Linked DNA regions of Homo sapiens: region 1 is linked to region 2. Evidence: fine-mapped expression QTL. A gene starts in region 2. The other region holds a variant in brackets. All regions are shown on one strand. Distances are between the middles of the regions.

What was found. PIP is the estimated chance that this variant, and not a neighbour inherited with it, causes the effect. A credible set is the group of variants that fine-mapping cannot tell apart.
Region 1: its variant is the best candidate, but not a certain one, in a credible set for the expression of BLOC1S2 in sun-exposed skin (GTEx, PIP 0.63).

The regions. Positions count from the first base shown.
Region 1 is chr10:100,104,860-100,117,440 of GRCh38, forward strand. It overlaps the pseudogene CYP2C23P and the pseudogene TPM4P1. Among named protein-coding and RNA genes, the nearest start is that of CPN1, 29 kb to the left of the region's middle. The variant G/A (reference allele first, on the strand shown) is at 5,015.
Region 2 is chr10:100,282,847-100,290,846 of GRCh38, forward strand. BLOC1S2 (biogenesis of lysosomal organelles complex 1 subunit 2) reads right to left here and starts at 3,834. Exons shown (of 5, transcript NM_173809.5): 1 at 3,759-3,834; 2 at 3,251-3,367. The coding sequence starts at 3,813. PKD2L1 (polycystin 2 like 1, transient receptor potential cation channel) reads right to left here. Exons shown (of 16, transcript NM_016112.3): 13 at 7,555-7,673; 14 at 7,169-7,292; 15 at 6,126-6,210; 16 at 5,303-5,632. The coding sequence ends at 5,550. RefSeq lists enhancers at 3,068-3,575, 3,161-3,460 and a silencer at 3,751-3,950.

The DNA of each region.
Region 1 (12,581 bases), 180 kb before region 2:
CTGTCCTTATGCCAATATCACACAGTTGTTTGGGTTTTTTTCCCTGGTCACTAGACTAGCAGGGAACACACAGTTTTAATGACTGTAGTTTTATATTTTGTTCTTCTTTCAAGATTGTTTTTACTACTCTTAGTCCCTTGCATTTTCATATGAATTTTAGGTTCATTGTGTGAATCTTCTTAATTTGGAGTGGATGCTACAGAAGATTCCCAATAGTGAACTGAGGACCAAAATTATCCAGAAGCCTCTACGTGGCAAAGGAAAGATCAGGGAACCAGGCAGGTCATTTATTGGTACTAGGTACATTTTGGAAATTTTCTAAAGAATCATCTTCTCCAGGGGTGGAGGCACTCCCTACTGGCATGCTGGCCTCAGTTTCCTAGTGAGTCAAATGACTGGATTTAGGGGATTGGAATTCTAAGAAAATCAAGGGTTCAGGAGCAAGGGCAGATCTCCAGACAGCTCTGTGTAGACCAGGGCCTGGAGGAGAGTTGGAGGTTACATGTTGCTTCCACATTGACCTAAGGCTTAGGCTCTTACTGCTATTCAATAATTCAAGATTTAAAGGAGACGGGTGGGATGGCTCATGCCTGTAATCCTAGCACTTTGGGAAGCTGAGGTGGGATTGAACCCAAAAGTTCAATATCAGCTTTGGAAACATAGTGAAACCGCATCTCTACAAAAAAAAAAAAAAATTAAGAAAATTAGCTGGGGCATGGTGGCACATGTCTATAGTTCCAGCTACTTGGGAGGCTGAAGTGGGAGGATCAATTGAGTCAGGGAGGTGGAGGCTGCAGTGGGCCATGACTGTGCCACTGCGCTCCAGCCTGAGTGACAGAGGGAGACCCTGTCTCAACAACAAAGAGCAAATAATTTATTTTAAAAAAATAAAAATAGGAACAGCTCTATGTGGGCCAGGCTCTCTCCAACACAGGCTCGCTTTCCTGGAAGGAAGGAACACTTCCATTAGTTCTCTTCATGTTAAAATACAATATGCCCCTAAAAGCCATTGGAAACACTAATCAGAAAGGGACTCTCATAAACTGCTGGAGGACATAAATCAGTATAGTTTTTCTAGAGGAGTATTTTTCAATACACATCAAAACACTCTAAAGAAATTTTCACTCTTCAATTCAGTGATTCTCCTTTTGACAATTTATCTGTAAGAAATAGAGATTTACCTATGAGGCTATCATTTGCATAATTATTTACAATATTGATGAATTAGATGAAACCTATACATCTATCTATAATAGACTGTAAATCATTGTGCCTCTAACACACAACCTAAAAATGTCTATATGGATTAATAGCATAGACTGTTTTTTATCACAATATACTAAGTGAAAGCAGAATATCAAATAGATTGTACAGAATGTACCAAATTTTATTTTTAAAATATACACTACAAGAGCCGGGCATGGTGGCTCACACTTGTATTCCTATTACATTGGGAGGCCAACGTGGGAAGTTCGCTTGAGCTCAGGAGTTCAAAACCAGCGCAGGCAACATAGCAAGACCCTGTCTCTACAAAAAAAAAAAAAAAAAAAAAAAAAAAAAAAAGATTTTGCCAGGTGTGGTGGCACACACCTGTAGTTCCAGCTACTCGGGAGGCTAAGGTGTGGGGATCACTTGAGCCCAGGAATTCAGAACTTCAGTGAGCCACGATCATACCATGGCACTCTGGGTGACAGAGTGAGACCCTGTCTCTAAAAAATAATTAGATAAGTAAAAGTAAAAATATAGATTATATATACCTGTTAGCAGTGACAAATTCATACAGGTATGCAGCACCCTCAATCCTTACCTCTTCAGAAGAAAGAATTCAACAGAGGAGGAACGTAAGGAGACCGAGGCAAGTTTAGAGCAGGAGTGAAAGTTTATTAAAAAGTTTTTAGAGCAGGGACAAAGAGGGCCAAGCGGGCGACTTGAGAGATTCAAGTGTGTGGCTTGACTTTCGGCTTGGGGTTTTATACATTGGCATGCTTCTGGGAATTGCCTCCTTTCTCCCCATATTCTTCCCCTGGGGTGGGCTGTCCGCATGTGCACAGTCGCCTGCTAGCGCTTGCGAGGGGCCACATGTGCAGTGTGTTTGCTGAAGTTGTGCGCATACTCACTTGAGGTTCTGATCTCTCACCAGTCGAGTGTTCCCAGAAGGTGGTCATGTGCCAGTTAAACTCAGCCATTTTGCTTCTTAGTGCGCATGCTTGAGCCCACTCACCCAATTCCTGAGCTCTTCACCAGCTTCAGGTGTTTTCTCTTGGGAGACTACCTTTCCCTGGCGCTGGCTGCCACCAATTATTATTTTGGAGAGAGAGTTAACAACTGCCTAACCATCACCTGATGGTCGCCTGACATTCCAGGTGTGGGAGGGCGGCTCTCTTGCCCTGCTCGTGTCTACCTACTTACTGTAACATACATAGAAATCTTTTGATGTATATACAGTAAAATATTAAGTGATTATCTGTAAGGCAAAATTGCAGGTAACTTCTTTCTCCTGTTGCTTTTCTGCATGTTCCATTTTTTATATTGAATATTTATTATCATTGTAATTAGAAACAAAACATATTGGCTGGGTGCAGTGGCTGACATCTGTAATCCTAGTGCTTTGGGAGGCCTAGGTGAGAAGATTGCTTGAGGCCAGGAGCTCGAGACTAGCCTGGGCAACATAGCAAGAGCCCATGTCTACAAAAAAAAAAAAAAAAAAAAAAATTAGCTGGGCATGGTGGCCCACATCGGTAGTCCTAGCTACTCAGGAGGCTAAGGTGGGAGGATCCCTTGAGCCCAGGAGTTTAAGGTTACAGTGAGCTGTGATTGCACCACTGCACTCCAGCCTGGGCAACAGAGCAAGACCCTGTCTCAAAGAAACAAAACATATTAAATGTTATTTTTGAAAATATTAATCAAATGAATGCATAAGATAACAGGGGAGAAAAAAAATGTGTGTTGGCCAATCTTAAATCATCTTTGCCACCTTCTGGGAAATCGTGACTGGAGCCAAGCAGCTCTTGTATAAAGGCGGGGACGTGTGAGGCTCTGAATTTCAGAGGGGAAGAAGGAAGATGCAGTGGCCAAGGGTCTTTGATGGCCTCTGGCTCCAAGAAACAGAAAATTAACAACAGTTAACATTTAAAACAAAGAAAGAAACCTGTACATTTTGTTTTGGAGAAGTCAGTATTACAAAGGGGAGATCAAAAAAGAAAGTTTGCAAAAGCAGGTCCCTTTGTCATTTGGTAATGTGTGACATCTAAATTGGATTGACTTGCTTTGGTTTCTTTAAAAACTCATTATATTCAATTACAAAATGACAAATCAGTCTTTGGATGACTGCCTGATTCTATTAGTGTACAGACTTAAATGGCTCCATCTAGATTTGGGAGTTTATCATAGTTTGATTGCCTTTGCTATTCTCAGTGGATTACTTAATTACGCCAAAAACTAAGTGAAGCTAAAAAATTGTCCAAAATGTGCAGGTGTTGGTCTGCATGGGTTTATTTGTATTTACCAAGGGAAAACGGCAAAAAGTAATCTGTTTTGTTGAAGCAGCCATTTTTATCCAGAAAGTGTCCTAAGTTTGACCCAAGACATTTTGGGAAACTGCTTGTAACTGAACAAGACCAGAGACAATAATGGCAACACAGTAGTCTTGGAGCCAAGAAATGGAGAGCACAGGAGCACTTTATTATGCTTATTGTTTATTTTTGGTTCATAAACAAGTCAAAAATACTTTTAAAAAAAAAAAAAGACAGGTTATGCTCTGTCACCCAGACTGGAGTGCAGTGGCGTGATCACAGCTCATTGCAGCCTCAATCTTCCAGGCTCAAGTGATCCTCATATCTCAGCCTCCTGAGTAGCTAGGAATACAGGTGTGTGCCACCATGCCTGGCCAATTATTTTATTTTCTGTAGAGACAGGGTCTTGCTATGTTGCCAGAACTAGTCTTGAACTCCTGGGCTTAAGCTATCCTCCCACCTTGGCCTCTCAAAGTGTTGGAATTACAGGTGCGAGCCACCACACCTGGCTTAACACTTTTTTTTTTTTTTGAGACAAGATCTCACTCTGTCTCCCAGGCTGGAGTGCAGTCTGGCTCACTGTGGCCTCGACCTCCCAGGCTCAAGTGATCCTCCCACCTTAGCCCCCCAAGTACAGGCAAGTGCCACCACACCCAGCTAATCTTTGTATGTTTTGTAGAGACAGGGTTTCATCATGTTGCCCAGGCTGGTCTTGAACTCCTGAGCTCAAGCGATCTGCCCACCTCAGCCTCCCTAAGTGTTGGCAGGCACGAGCCATTGCGCCCAGCCAACACTCTTAATTATAGTGGATTTAACAGGACTGAGCATTCTTAAGCTTGCCTGTGAGTGATGGTCTCAATTTATGGCTATTTTACACACACTGTCATACAATAGCTTTTATCTAGTAATCAGATGGTTCTCTGCAGGAAAAGTATTATTATGGTCAATGTGAAAAACTGGAGTTTGCAACCATACTGTCTAGAAAGCAGCTTTACTGGAATTGCTGCCTTAAATCATAAGAACTGACTTTTTTTTTACTGTTTTTTTTCTTTCTGGATTCAGGTGTGAATGAAAGAAAATGAGATCTGGAACCTTGATGCTATTGAATCAAACTCTACTTTCCTCGCTTGTAAATTGGGGTAGGGTAACAACCATGATAATTATGACAACAGCAGCCAGCTTTCCTCCTTGCCTCATACAATCTTTGTGAGGCTTAAATGACCAAATAATATTGGATGCTTTACATTTGCCTGACACTCTGTATTAGTCTGTTCTCACAGTGCTATGAAGAAATACCCAAGACTGGGTAATTTATAAAGGAAAGAGGTTAAATTGACTCACAGTTCTGTATTGCTGGGGAGGCCTCAGAAAACTTACAATCATAGCAGAAGGCAAAAGAGAAGCAAACACCTCCTCCACAGGGCAGCAGGGGAGCAAGTGCAAGCAGGAAATGCCAGGTGCTTATAAAACCATCAGCTCTCGTGAGACTCACTCACTATCAC[G/A]AGAACAGCATGGGAGAAACCACCCCCATGATCCAATTACCTCCACCTGGTCTCACCCTTGACAAGTGGGGATTATGGGGATTACAATTCAAGGTGAGATTTGGGTGGCGACATGAAGCCAAACCATATCACACTGCCTAGTTGTTTATAAATCTCATTTCATTCTCACATAAACTATATCCAGTAGCTGCTTTTGTTGTTCTTCACATTATATAAATGAGAAAAACCAAGGCTCAGAAAGGAGAAAATACCTTGCTTGAAATTATGCTTTTGTCACATGGCATAGTTAGAATTCAAACCAAGTTCTATCTGATTATAAAGCACTCCTGTTTAAGTGAAAAGTTCCTTTTTCCATTTCAACTTCATTTTGTATTTCCTTAAACATTATCTGTACAATTATTAGAGTTGGTAATATCTGCACATCGTATACAATACCAAAATATGTACACAAGGGTAAAAAGTGAAAATAAGTCTTCTAGCTGGGTGCTGTGGCTCACGCCTGTAATCCCAGCATTTTGGAAGGCCAAGGCCAGTGAATCACCTGAGGTCAGGAGTTCGAGACCAGCCTGGCCAATATGGTGAAACCCCATCTCTACTAAAAATACAAGAATTAGCTGGTCGTGGTGGCAGGCACCTGTAATCCCAGCTACTCAGGAGGCTGAGGCAGAGAATTGCTTGAACCTGGGAAGCGGAAGTTGCAGTGAGCCGAGATCCTGCCACTGCACTCCAGCCCGGGCAACAAGATCCTGCCACTGCAATCCAGCCTGGGCAACAAGAGAGAAATTCAGTCTCAAAAAAAAAAAAACCCAAAAACAAGAAAATAAGTCTTTCTCCCTTTCCTATACAGTATACTTGACATCCCTTTCCTATACAGTATACTTGACACCTGGTTTCCTTCTTGATGTAGTCACAGTTACCAGTTTATATCCCATGGGAGATATCTTATGGATTAAACACACACACACACACACACACACATATACAGCCGCCATTGTTTTCACATAAATGGTAGCATCCTATAGTGTTCTGTAGCTTGCTTAGTATTTCATGTTATAGAAATATCAGAATGTTTGCAGTCCTTTTTAAATAGACATTCAAGGATAGTCCAGTCTTCAAACATCAAAAATGTTAGGCCGGACGTGGTGGCTTATGTCTGTAATCTCAGTACTTTGGGAGGCTGAGGTGGGTAGATCACCTGAGGTCAGGAGTTCAAGACCAGCCTGGCCAACAATGGTGAAATCCCATCTCTACTAAAAATACAAAAATTAGCTGGGCGTGGTGGCACACGCCTATAATCCCAGCTACCCAGGAGGCTGAGGCACGAGAATTGCTTGAACCCAGGAGGCGGAGGTTGCAGTGAGCTGAGATCGCACCATTGCACTCCAGCCTGGGTGAAAGAGCGAAACTCCGTCTCAAAAAAAAAAAAAGAAAAAAAAAAGCAAATGTCAAAAATATTGCTGTAATAAATATTCTTTGGGGAAAACATACATGAAGGATAAACTGCTAAACTAGTGAGAGAGTAGGAACAGGGCTTGGCTTCTTTTGGCTTCAGCCCGCCACACTAGAGCATTCTTTCATGCATCCCCACTGATCACAAAACCTACTCCACTACCTCACTGATGCCATCACGTTTTCTGGGTTTTGTTTTGTTTTTTGAGACAGAGTTTCGCTCTTGTTGCCCAGGCTGGAGTGCAATGGTGCGATCTTGGCTCACCACAACCTCTGCCTCCCAGGTTCAAGCGATTCTCCTGCCTCAGCTTCCCCAGCAGCTGGGACTACAGGCGTGTGCCATCACACCCAGCTAATGTTTTATTTTTAGTAGAGACGCGGTTTCTCCATGTTGGTCAGGCTGGTCTCTAACTCCTGGCCTCAGGTGATCCGCCTGCCTCCCAAAGTGCTGGGATTACAGGCGTGAGCCACCACGCCCGGCCAATCCCCTGTGTTTTTCCTTAAAGAATTCCAGGAAGTGGCCTTAGGAAATAACCAAGGTTGTCCTCAGAAAGGAATGCTGAACGACTGATTTACAGCCTTGTTGCCTCCGACCAGACCACCAGGTGGCCCTTACTCAAGATAAACATAGCAACCAGATCACGCTGACCTGTGTCTCCTGCCCCTCACATGCCTTGCCCAGCCCAGCCTCCATACCCTATCACTGATGTCAATTCCTGCGCTTTGCCTAATAAAAAAGCCCTACGGCTCTTTTCTGGAAGTCAGTCAGGGAATTCTCTCACTCATGCTGCTTTCCTTATGTCTGGGCATAAGTTCCAATGAGGCCTTGTTTGGGAAAGCTCTTTCAACTTCATGTCAATTTCTATTGCATTGAGAGCCCAAGAATCCATGGTCAGTAACACTAGTAGTGAAACTACTCTTCACGTTGTATGTGTTTTGAATTTTGATAAATATTGCCACATTGCCTTCCCTAGAGGTTATATCAATTTACAATATTGGCAAGAATATGGGTTTTTTTTTTAACATCCTACCAACAAATTATGACAAATAAAAACATGTTCTTTTACAACTTTTATTTTAACATATTTTATTTTGTTAGTATATTTTTATGTTTGAAAATCACCTTGAATTACTTTTACTCAAATTTTAACTTTGTTTCCCTTGCACTTTTTTTTTTAGTTTATGTAAAAATTTATTTGACCAAAATGTAGAAAAAGTGATACTATTACATATGATACAGTTGTAAGAATCTTAAGAAAAGTATGGATTTTATTCAATAGCACAATTTGCTAGTGTATTTCCTGGATAGTGTGATGCTGAATAAATAGGAGTAGGGTGGTGGGGTGGGGTGGATAGGGGATTCAGATAAGCCAGAAGCAGGGTGATTTTTAGTCAGAATTGAAAACTTGAGTTGGCCCCCACACGCTGCTGGGGAATGTGAAATGTTTCAGCTCTGAGATGTTAACTGAGAAAACAAAGTAAAAAGAAGCCAAAATGTGCAGCCCCGTCTTCAAAATCCTCCATTATCCAGTTTAATCAGGAGTTTCTTGGTCTTTTATCAACTTGGTCCTAAAGAAGGAATTCAAGTTCTACATAAGTGAAACTTCAATTTGCTATTCCTGAAGTATGGAAATGAAGTTGGGCCAGTTTTTAATCTCTGCTGCCAGAGAGGCCCTTTCTGCTAATAGAACAAAGCTCTTTTGCTCAATTTATTAATGCCTTGTAGTCTTTTGAATATGGCTGACTTGAATTGGACTGAACTCCACCATATTCCTGCTGAGTGGATGGGTCATTATTGGAATGAGACACTTGCTCCTCAGAGAACAACTTTTGATTTTGTTTTTTCTTGTGATGGAGTGTCTCACTCTGTCACCCAGGCTGGAGTACAGTGGTGCCATCTCAGCTCACTGCAACCTCCACCTCCCAGATTCAAGCAATTCTCCCACCTTAGCCTCCCTAGTAGCTGGGACTACAGGCATGTGTCACCATGCCCAGCATTTGTATTTTTAGTGGAGGCGGGGTTTTGCCGTTTTGCCAGGCTGGTCTCAAATTCCTGACTTCAGGTGATCCACCTGCCTTGGCCTCCCAAAGTGTTGGGATTACAGGCGTGAGCCACTGTGCCTGGCCAGAGAACAACTTTAGAATGAAAGAAATATGCAGAAGAACATCACATCAAGCATCTATCCAGAAAATATGTGGGTAATTATGAAGCATTCTCATGCTGACTGCTTGAGAGGATGTTTGTTCTGCATGGTGGAGTGTGGAGAAGAGCCAGGATGCTTAGGTTAATCTATCTGTGGTTTATGACTTCCCACAACAGCAAACCCCCACCCACCATTTTTGTTTTGTTTTGTTTTTGTTTTTTTTGCCTCTGGATGGAAAATCCCCACCCATGTGATGGTCCCTGGTCTCTCCTGTCGTCTGACCAATGGTTGACCCAAATGGTTATGTTCTTCAGCGTTTTAAATAGATCCATTACTAGATATTGGAGTCTGTGTTCTCCAAAGTGTGGGGTTGCCTGTTCTCTTGTCGCCCAGGCTGCAGTGCAATGGTGCAATCTCCGCTCACTGCAACCTCCGCCTCCCGGGTTCAAGCAATTCTCCTGCTTCAGCCTCCCGAGTAGCTGGGATTACAGGCGTGTGCCACCACGCTCGGCTAATTATTGTATTTTTAGTAAAGACGAGGTTTCACCATGTTGGCCAGGCTGGTCTCGAACTCCTGACCTCAAGTGATCCACCCACTTCAGTCCCCTAAAGTGCTGGGTATACAGGTGTGAGCCACTGTGACTGTCCGCCCTCTGTCCTAAGAGACTGCGTTTACTAGGAAATACCCTGCCTACCTTAGGAATAAATGCAACGCAAAGGAAAAAATAGAGCTGAAAAAGCTGGTGCCATTTTTAAAAAAAGGAAGAAATGAGATTTAACTGGTGCTCAAAGCTTCTGATACAAAATATGTGGTCATGTATTCATAATTTGCTTGACATTTCCAGCAAAACAAAGATGGCAATAACAAAAGAAACTTCTTACAAGAGAAGAGAAAGACACTCGGAGCTCCGGAGTTTCTGCTGGAACAAGGCTCTTCCGTTTTGGTTATATACAGTCAAGTTCATTTAGTGCCTGATCCAGTGTCTGATATAAGCCCGCGCTCTCTTCTTTGGCCTGGGCAAATTTCTCTTCCAGGTCATCAGTTGTCTTTTCCAGTTTTGCAACCATTATCTCTACAAATTCAGCACGGATCTCAGCCTCCTTCAGTTGTCAGACAGAAGTTTAATTTTTTCTTCGTATTTGTCCTCCTTGTCAGAATACTTTCCAATGCAGCCTCCGGCGGTTTCAGATTGTTAGTGACATTCTTGAGTTCTTCTGCCAGGTCACCACATTTTAGTTCAGACACCTCTGCACGCTCCTCTGCTCTGGCCAGTTCGCCCTCTGTGATGGCCAGTTTCCGAGCTACCTCCTCTTATTTGCGGTCAGCCTCCGGCCGCAGTGTGCTTGGCCTCTTTGAGCTGCATCTCCCGAATCCATCTTCTCCTCATCCCTCATAGCCCGGTTTTCTATCACCTTCATTCTCTCTCACGCTCATCTGCAGCCTTTTCCCCCCTCCTCTAGCTTCTGCAGGGCCGTGACCAGTCGTTCCCGAGCCCCGTCCAACTCCTCCTTAAAGAGCTGGATGCACATGTACCCTAAAACTTAAAGTATAATAATAATAATAAAAAAAGAAAAAAAAAAAAAAAAAGAGCTGGATGCGTCAGTCGAGGACAGCCACATCGCCTTCAGCTTTCTCGCGCCGCTCGCTCGCGCCCCCCGCTCGCGCCCCCAGTCCAGCTGCCGCTGCAGGCCCTGCGCGCAGTCTTCGCCTTGTCCGCCTGCTGCGGCAGGGCCTGAATCTTGCGTTTCACCGCCTGCGGCGGGCGCCCCGGACCCGGCCGGGTTCGGACGACAGCTGCACGGCCGCGCCTCGGCCCCTGAACTTTTGCCTGCACCGGGGCCGCCCCGCACCCCCCGCCAACCCCCAGCCCCGGCCCGGCTGCCGTCGGGGCGATGAGGTCACCCGCCCTTGCACGATATCTGTTGATTTGGGGATTTGTTCCTACTGACTATAGGAGTCAATTTTCTTGGGTTTTTCAGGCACGATGATAGCAACTAAAGTTTTTGCTTCCATCTTTTAAATGTTTTATTTCTTGTTACTTTTTTCTGATTCCAGTTGAACTATACTGTAATGGTAAATAGCCTTGTTATTTATTTATTTATTTATTTATTTATTTATTTATTTATTTTATTTTATTTTTTTACGACACGGGGTTTCACTCTGTCGCCCAGGCTGGAGTGCAAGTGGTGCCATCTTGGCTCACTGCAACCTTCACCTCCTGGGCTCAAGCGATCCTCCTACCTCAGTCTCCTGAGTAGCTGGGACTATAGGCGCGGGCCACCAAGCCCGGCTAAATTTTTTTTTTTTTTTTTTTTTTTTGGGATTTTTAGTGGAGACAGGGTTTCGCCATGTTGGCCAGGCTGTCTAAAACTCCTGACCTTAGGTGATCCGCCTGCCACCGCCTCCCGAAGTGCTGGGATTACAGGTGTAAGCCAGCCTCATCTTATTCTCAATATTAATGAGAATGTTTCCAGTCTTTCACCAAAAAGCACAATTTGGGAGATGTGTTTTCATTGACTTAAGAGAAATTCATCTATTTCTATTTTACTAAGGGTTAGAAAAATCAAGAATGGATGTCAAATATTCTTAAAAGCATTTTCTGTACAAATGAGATTATCATGTAATGTCAAAATTGTATTTGTACAATTTTGCATAATCTGTATTTATGTAATTTTGTATAAATTGTATTTATACAAAATTGTATTTATATGGTCAGTTTTCTTAAGATGGATTTCCTGGTATTGCACCACTGCTATGTTCCTGATTCCTGTGTTAGTGGTGTAGTTTTTTCTTTTTTTTTTGAAACGGAGTCTTGCTCTGTCGCCCAGGATCTTGGCTCACAGCAACTGCCGCCTCCCGGGTTCAAGCGATTCTCCTGCCTCAGCCTTCCAACTAGCTGAGATTATAGGCATGTGCCACCATGTCCTGCTAATTTTTGTATTTTTAGTAGAGGAGGGGTTTCACCATGTTGGCCAGGCCGGTCTCGAATACCTGACCTTAGGTGATCCACCTGCCTCGGCTTCCCAAAGTGCTGGGATTACAGGCGTGAGCCACCGTGCCCAGCCAGTGGTATAGCATTTTTAATATGATGCCAGACCTATGCATCAATAGACTTTTGCATTGATATTTGTAAGTGAGACTGGCGGCTGTTTCTGTTTGCAGTATTTTGGTCAGGTTTGGCATCTTTTCTTCCTCCTCTATGCTTTGGAACTGTTTAAATGTAAAGCCCAAACCCTTAATCACTATGTAAGACTGACTACATCCCCAGTGTGCATGTAAACATTTTGGTAAATTCTATGTGCTTTACAAATGTTAACTGTCAGAGGCAGCAATATCCCAAATGTCGGAGTACAAGTGATCCTGAGAGGAGAGTATTAAGATTAAAGGAGGTGAGAGTTGCCTTGATTACCCTAGAGCTGCAGGTACCATTTCCATCTCTTGCCCCCTTTTTTAATGCACCATGAAAAATCAGATTTCCGTTCCTATGAGATTCTTATGAATGGAAATCAGGCCTCCCTTCATACATTTGAGATGAGAGTGGGAAGGGGCCTTGGAAGCCCCAAGTCAGCCTCCTCCATTCTAGGAAGACAGAGACACGGCCCCAGAGGTGACAGAATGGCCTGAAAGTGCACTGCATGACTGCGACAGATTTCAAACCCAGGCACGTTGCTCTGGCCTTATGTTCTTTCTGTGACTCTAACTGCCTCTCTTGCAGCAACAGAACTGAGAAACTTCTCAGAGGCCCCAGCAACGGACCCCAGCACCCCTTCTATCTCAGTCAGATTTCCCAGGCTCATCTCACCTTAGGGATGGTGCACTGTCTGAATAGGCCCTGGGCCACAGCACTGGGCAGAGTAGAAGGAAGGAGAGTGATTTATCATTGTATCTCATGCAGGCTGGCCCAGCTTCGTCTTGTCCTTCACGGAGCAGCTTTGATTGCATCCAATCACATGATCAATTTCTTCATGAACTT
Region 2 (8,000 bases):
AAAACAAATTAAGTGCACCATACAGGCATTCCCTGACATTTTAGCCTAGGCTCTCTTACCTACTTCTAAGCTCTTCCTTGGCAATCTCATCCTGCACAGCGTCCAATCACACCACTACGAAAGTGACTCCGAAATCTGTTTCTTGTGCTCTGATCAATCTCTGAGCTCTGGAATCCAATGTACAAGTCACCTGAGTTCCCTAGTTACATCAACAAGCAGCCAACCCAAAACTGAAAACATTTTCACACTAAACATGGTTCCTCTTTCCAGCTATTTTGGCTGATGGCACCACCCAGGCTTAAAACCTCAGATACATCTTGGTCTGCTTCCATCCCTCAATATCTACTTAAACAAGTCCTATAAAGTCCACTTCTGTAATGCTGTTGCACCCATGTTCTCCTTTCCATTCCTTTTACCACCACTCTGCCTCAGATCTTCATTACTTTTCTTTTCTTTTATTATTATTAGATTACTTGGAGCATGTAACCTCTGGATGGTAGGGGAAAAGACAAGACTACAAGGATGGAGTCGTGCTATGTTGCCCAGGCTGGTCTTAAACTACTGGCCTCAAGCAATTCTCCTGCCTCCCAAAGTGCTAGGATTACAGGCATGAGCCACGGTGCCTGGTCCTCTATTACTTTTCATCTGAATTATTGCTCATCTCTCTCTGTTCTCTCTCCCCCATATCTACACTCTCATATTTATACTGCTATCAAATTAGTCTCTCTAAAACAAAGGTCACAGCTAGGCATTGCGCCTCATGCCTGTAATCCCAGCACTTTGGGAGGCCAAGGTGGGCAGATCACTTGAGGTCAGGAGTTCAAGTCCAGCCTGGCTGACATGGCAAAACCTCATCTCTACTAAAAATAAAAATAAAAATTAGCCAGGCGTGGTGGCGTGTGCTTGTAATCCCAGCTACTTTGGAGGCTGGGGCAGGAAAATTGCTTGAACCTGGGAGACGGAGGTTGCAGTGAGCCGAGATTGCACCACTGCATTCCAGCCTGGGCAACAAAAGCGAAAACTCCGTCTAAATAAAATAAAATAAAACAAGGGTGACATATTCAAACACCTAGAAGCCAGCAAGATAACGTAAATGAGTAAAGTAAGCCAAGTGCTTGCACATTAAATGCATAAGAAAATTATTCACTTCCATGAAGAAATGTGCTTCCCCTTACTTCTTGCAATATGCAATCCTCTTAGCCCATCATTTACTTTACCAGTTTTGATAGAGCCATTGGTATAGAAAACCATTTCTGTACTGCTACTAATAAAAATAACAGTAGAGAACAGTGATCAATGGCACTTGACACTAGTTCCCAGTAAAGGGAGAAAACAGAAAGTGGTAAGGACAAATTAGATAGCACTAGTCCTTTTAAGAGGCAGCTGCTCAGCTCTAGTCAATTATAGCCTTGAAAGAATGCAGGGGCTAGTAGCGCCAAATCTTTGGAATTGTTAAAGAGAAGCCAAACACCTACATTTTGTTACTTGGTTTCTCTTGCTCAAAAATAAACAAACAAATAATCAGGCTGATAACTTACAGAGTCACAGCTGGGTGCAGTGGCTCACACCTGTAATCCCAGCATTTTGGGAAGCTGAGGTGTTAGGATCACTTGAGGCCAGCTTGGGCAACGGAGCAGACCTCATCTCTATTATTTATTTATTTAGGACAGAGTCTCCCTCCATCACCCAGGCTGGAGTGCAATGGCACGATCACAGCTCACTATAACCTCCACCTCTCAGGTCAAGCGATTCTCCCGTGTCAGCCTCCTGAGTAGCTGGGATTATAGGCGTGTGCCACCACACCTGGCTAATTTTTGTATTTTTAGTAGAAGCAGGGTTTTGCCATGTTGAGCAGGCTGGTCTGGAACTCCTGACCTCAGGTGATCCACCTGCCTAGGCCTCCCGAAGTGCTGGGATTACAGGCATGAGCCACCGTGCCTGGCCATATTTTTTTAAATAATAATAATAATAAAAGAAAAGTAATGAAGATCTCAGGCAGAGTGGTGGTAAAAGGAATGGAAAGGAGAGCATGGGTGCAAGAACATTACAGAAGTGGAATTTATAGGACTTGTTCAAGTAGATATTGAGGGATGGAAGCAGACTAAGATGTATCTGGGGTTTTAAGCCTGGGTGGTGCCATCAACCAAAATAGATGGAAAGAGGATCACTTGAGCTCAGGAGTTCAAGACCAGCCCAGGCAACATAGTGAGACCCTGTCTCTTAAAAACAGAAAAAGAAAAAAAAAAATTACAGATTCACAACCCCTACTATTCTGTATCAAGCCTTTTCTCATAGATTCTGATTCACAAATTTAGCTTACAGTAATTTCCTGGGGAAGTGAAACAATTTAATAAATGTTTTTGAGATGCTGTACTGGACCAGACTTCACTTTCTTTCTTTTTCTTTTTTCTTTCTCATTTTTTTTGAGATGGAGTCACACTCTGTCGCCCAGGCTGGAGTGCAAGTGGTGTGATCTCAGTCCACTGCAACCTGCAACCTCCACCTCCTGGGTTCAAGCGATTCTCCTGCCCCAGTCTCCCCAGTAGCTGGGATTACAGGCGCCCGCCACCACGGCCGGCTAATTTTTGTATTTTTAGTGGAGACAGGATTTCGCCATTTTGCCCAGGCTGGTCTCAAACTCCTGACCTCAAGTGATCCACCAGCCTCGGCCTCTGGGATTAAAGGCATGAGCCACCGCGCCCTGCCCATACTTCACTTTCTGATCCTCCTCCACACATAGGTCATGTGTCCACTTGGAAACGATCAAACACTAGTCATGTCCCAAAGGATGGGTTATCAAATCCTCAGACCAAACTAATAGGTCCCTAAATCTGCAGGTCACTCCCCGTTCCTCAATTTCATTTCTCTTTATCCCGGTAAACACATCTTCTGCTTTAGCCAAACACACTGCTTGCACATACCACCTCATTCGCTAGTTGTATCATCTCCCCCTTTTCCACCAATAATTCCCTTCACAACCCTGCTCAAAATACACTTTCCCCAAGGAAGCACTTCTTGATTACTGTTGCTGGATATGAACTCTTTTTTGTTATTGTTTTCTCATTAGTCTATGTTACAGAGGCCTGCAGAGTTGTATTTTCTTTCTCTCCCATTCATGGCCTCCCCCAACTTCCAACAGGCCTGTCTCAGGGCATGCAGGGTAGGAAGGGAGCTGCAGACTGATGCTGCTAACCATCTCCCAGGCCTCCTGGGCCAAACCGCACCCGAATCAACCCAGACCCCGCCTCACCCGTCAGTTCCCCAGTCAGGTAAGTGGCCATTTTGGAGAACATGTCCCGGCAGAGCTCAGTGATGTCAGCTTCAGCAGGCTCCTTTGCTTCCTCAGCTGTCTCCACGGCGGCATCGTCTGGGCCAAGGGAGAATGACTAAGTGTCCCGCCTACACCCGGTGCTAATCCAGCCAAAGCAGCCTGTTCCGACATCCCTCCACTTGCCTTCATTCCATCAAGTCGGCTCCATTCTCCATCTGCCATAATTTCAAGTCCTTCACTGCGTCCCTGCCCATCTGACACATCAACTCGCCTCCCTCGCACCGCCCCTCGCCCATACCCGGCACCCCCGCTCATCCTGGCACCATCCCAGTCACCCTGACAGGACAAACACTCGCGCGCAGCGACAAGTGCACTCCTCTCACCAGCCCGTTCCTGCCAGGTGAGCCACCACACACTCAACCTCGCCCACCCGAGACGGAGCCCCAGGCCCCCCACCGGACGCTTCCTCCCCATCCATTCCGGGTACCTCGGGCGGGCTCATCACTCCGGGTCGCCAGTACGCCCTCGGCTGCCGCCGCCATAGCGGACCCCGCGCTGTTTCCGGGCCGGGGTGCTGCGCATGCGCACTGGGTGTGCCCCGCCCACCCGGCCGGCCCTGCAGTCCTGCGCCTAGCGGTCCAGTCCAGCCTCAGGTCTATGACACAGCAAAGGGCGATTCCGGAGCCGAAATTGAAGCTACGCCAGGCTGTTGTGAATTGATCCACTGCCAACAGTCGCGACGTCTGGGACTGAGGGCGAGCTCATCCCTACAGTCACACCCTGGAGGGATCACTCATCTTGTACCACTCACGACCCGTCTGGGAATAGTCAACCCTGTTTGTGGCCTGCTGACCAAAACCACTGAAGACGGATTGCCCGCTCTCCTGACACTCCGCACTGGAGTTAGTCATCAAAAGATTGCTCAGGGAATCCAAAGTTTTACAGGTTGTCTCGTCCACACTTTGGGAAACCTTCAGGCATTGATCCCTGGTCCTAAATACTGTCCCTCCCAATGTCCTGAGTTAACACCAACTCACTGGCCCCTATTTCTTAAACTGCAGGCAGGCATCTACTTCTCTTCAGTTGATACAGCCTTCCTTGAAGAAAGCTTAGACTGTAACTTTTTTAGGGCTGAGGATACACTCTGGTTATCTTAATTGCATTTAAGCTGTTTCACAAGCCTCCTAGGTGTACAGAGTACTTAATGGGATGGGAGAACAGGAGTGAGTGAAAGAGATGGATGAGAAGAAGTGACTGGGGAGCAATTGAAGGTGCAAAATGAGGAGGGATAAAGGCCACAGAAGAAGGGATAGGAGATATTCAGCAGGCCTCAGGCAGGCTCCTGGACACCCAAAATCTTGGTAGTTTCTTTTCTTATCCCTGGTTATCCTCCCTCTGCACCCTCTCACCCCACCCCGATGCCAGTACATACACACACACGCCAGCTACCCCTTATCCCCAGCCCTCCTACCCTGACTGTCTCCACCCTGAGGACTGAGTCTCACTTGTCACCTGTCCCCACTTTTCCTATGGTGCAACCATAGTAGCCACTATTTCAAGCCATTCCTGCGAGCCAGAAGTTCTTTTTTTTGAAACAGAGTCTCGCTCTGTCACCCAGGCTGGAGTACAGTAACGTGATCTCGGCTCAGCTCACTGCAACCTCCACCTCCCGAGTTCAAACGATTCTCATGCCTCAGCCTCCCAAGTAGCTGGGATAACAGGCACGCGCCACCACACCTGGCTAATTTGTTTGTATTTTTATTAAAGACAGGATTTCAGCATTTTGCCCAGGCTTGTCTGGAACTTCTGGCCTCAAGTGATCCACCCAACATAGCCTCCCAAAGTGCTGGGATTACAAGCGTGAGTCACTGTGCTAGGCCTAGAAGTTCTTATAGCCCAGCTCCTTCACATCACTGCACCTACTCTATACCTCCTAGAGAGCATGAACCTATTCCAGCCCAGGCACATGGATGACCCACAATTTCAGCCTTTCTTCCCTCTATAATACCAGAAGCAAATGCAAAGTCCAAGTTTTCCTAAGGAGTTTTATTGATAGCCACCATGGAAACCCACATGGTCTTATGGAAGAATAATGTCAGAACCCACCACATATTAATTCAAAGATCTCTGAATCCTGAGTTCATTTCCTTGCCTGATTCCCTTCAGGCTCCATTTTTATCTCCTGGTTAAAGCCCACTCAGTTTCCAGGTTCAGTGGACCAGGAGGCAGCCTCTTGCAGAAGATCCTTCATAGACTTTGCTCCGGGAGTGCCTCACACTTAACTCCTCTGCAACGTTGGAATCTCACCACGGGAGAGTCTCCTCTCCTCTAAGGCTTCCTCTTCTCTTTTATAGGGAACCTCTGTGGGGGAAAACGAGAAACCCATGGGTGCTAGCAACAAATCTTGGGATGCACAAAGGATAAGAATAGGATTCACTGGGAAGTAGGAAGACATCTAGATACCGCCTACTCTCTTGGTTTCTACCTTTTTCACAGACCATGGCTATCCAGGTGCTTAGGAAGAGCCATTACCCTCCCTCTCTTTATCCTGTTTGTTAACTTTTTTTTTTTTAATTAACACACAGAGCTAAGTACACAGGGAGTAAAAGGCCCAGTGGAAGACGTTATTTCACAGAGCTATGTGGCAACACACAGAAACACTGATTCACAAGCCTAAGCATGATGCCCACCACACACAGAAACATTGGCTCAAAAGGCCAGATGCAGGGTGGGGCTCAGCAGCAGCCATGATGGGACCTGTTGTCCTAGAAGTGCAGGGGATGTGGCGAGGGGGCCTGTGCGGAGGCAGAGGGAGGGAAGCCTGCTGTCTGATGCTTTAGGCCCCCTTCCTCACCACTCTCCTGCCCACCCTGGACTCCCCAGGGGTCTGGGGTCACAGCTGGGGCTGGCTGCGGGTGCTTCCAAATAGCTTGTTCCTTCTGTTGGAAGAAGAAAGGGACAAATCATTTGAAGAAATAGTTTGTGTACCACTTTTCTTTTCTCTCTATCTGATTCCAGAGAACTCAGACTGCTATAGACTGTTTGCGTCCCTCCCAAATTCATCCGTTAAAATTGTAACCCCCAATGTGATAGTATTAGGAGGTGGGGCCTTTGGCAGGGGATTAGATAGTGAGTATGTAGCCCTTATGAGTGGGCTCACGCCTGTAATTCCAGCACTTTGGGAGGACGAGGTGGGTGGATCACCTGAGGTCAGGAGTTCGAGACCAGCCTGACCAATATGGAGAAACCCCATCTGTACTAAAAATACAAAATTAGCTGGGTATGGTGGCACATGCCTGTAATCCCAGCTACTTGGGAGGCTGAGGCAGGAGAATCACTTGAACTCAGGAGGCGGAGGTTGCAGTGAGCCGAGATCGTGCCATTGCACTCCAGCCTGGCCAACAAGAGTAAAATTCCATCTCAAATAATAATAATAATAAATAAAATAAAAAAATAAAATAAAGGAGACTTCCCTTACCCCTTCCACCATGAAAGGGCACAGCAAGAAGACAGCTCTCTATGAATCAGGAAGTGGGCCCTCAACAGATACTGAATCTACTGGCACCTTGATCTTAGACTTCCCAGCCTCCCAAACTGTGAGGAACAAATTTGTGTTGCTTATAAGCCACCCAGTCTATGATAATTTATTATATCAGCCCAAACAGACTGACACAGACCATCTCATGTGGCCAAGGCAGCCCTTAGGCCAGGGCAAGCAACTTCCAGGCCTTATCTCCATGACCCATCTCTGCTGATACACTAACCGCTATGAACATGTTTCCCCAGGAGCCTGAAAACATAGGTCTTTCAAAAATGTTCTTGCCCCACCCACTGAGTGGAAAAGATGGCAGAGTTCAGCTGTGAGGAACTAGGAGGACCAGGTGAAGGGCCACTCACCACGCCTGGGGAGGGAGCCAGCCACCCCTTCCTCTCCAGCATTTTCAGCTTTGAGCCTACAGCATCAATCTGGGACACTACTCCTTCCAGGACAGTCTCCAGCTGCAGAACTCTCCTTGTGAGCCTGTGTGGGATTTGAGAGAGACGAATGGAGCAGAAATCTGTGTCTGGGGGCTGGATGTCTAAAGAGCCAGGGTTCACAGAAGGGCATGTGTCCTGAATGGAACAAGGAAGGGAAGACCCAGCCTTGTAGGCAGAATTAAAGGGGAGCGGAGGTTCTCCCTGGGGTAGGACAGAGAATTGGAAAGTTGTGGGAAAAGTACAAGACAGGGTATCGTAATAGAAGTGTTGCCAGCCCTGAACCAGCCTTTCTTGGCTGCACGTACATGTAGAATTCTTCTCCTGAAACCCAGCCTCCTGCTCTGGCAGCCTCTGGACCCGATTTGCCTTGTGGGCTGCTCACAATAGATCGGCCTAGTTTCTCAATCTCAGTGTTGAGGGCCACCTGCTCAGGAAGTCAGAGGTTAGAGGGGAGGAGATAACTCTGGGAAGCCATCAGCTCCTGTTCTATCACCTACTCTACTGGGATCTCAGGACCAAGGCTCAGGTCCTAGTTCTTGCTATTCCCCTTCCCTCCCAGACTCTGGAGACAATAGGGTCAGGGTGGTGGTGCTGGACCAACCTCTGGAGGAGTCACCTCTCAAAGAAAACACAAGATCCTAGAAGGCTTGATGGATGAGGTATTTACTAGAGGCCAACTCATTTTAGCAGAGGAGGGACACTACCAGTGTTCTTGGCACTTTCTAGGCTGCTGTCACCCTGCCTTTGACTT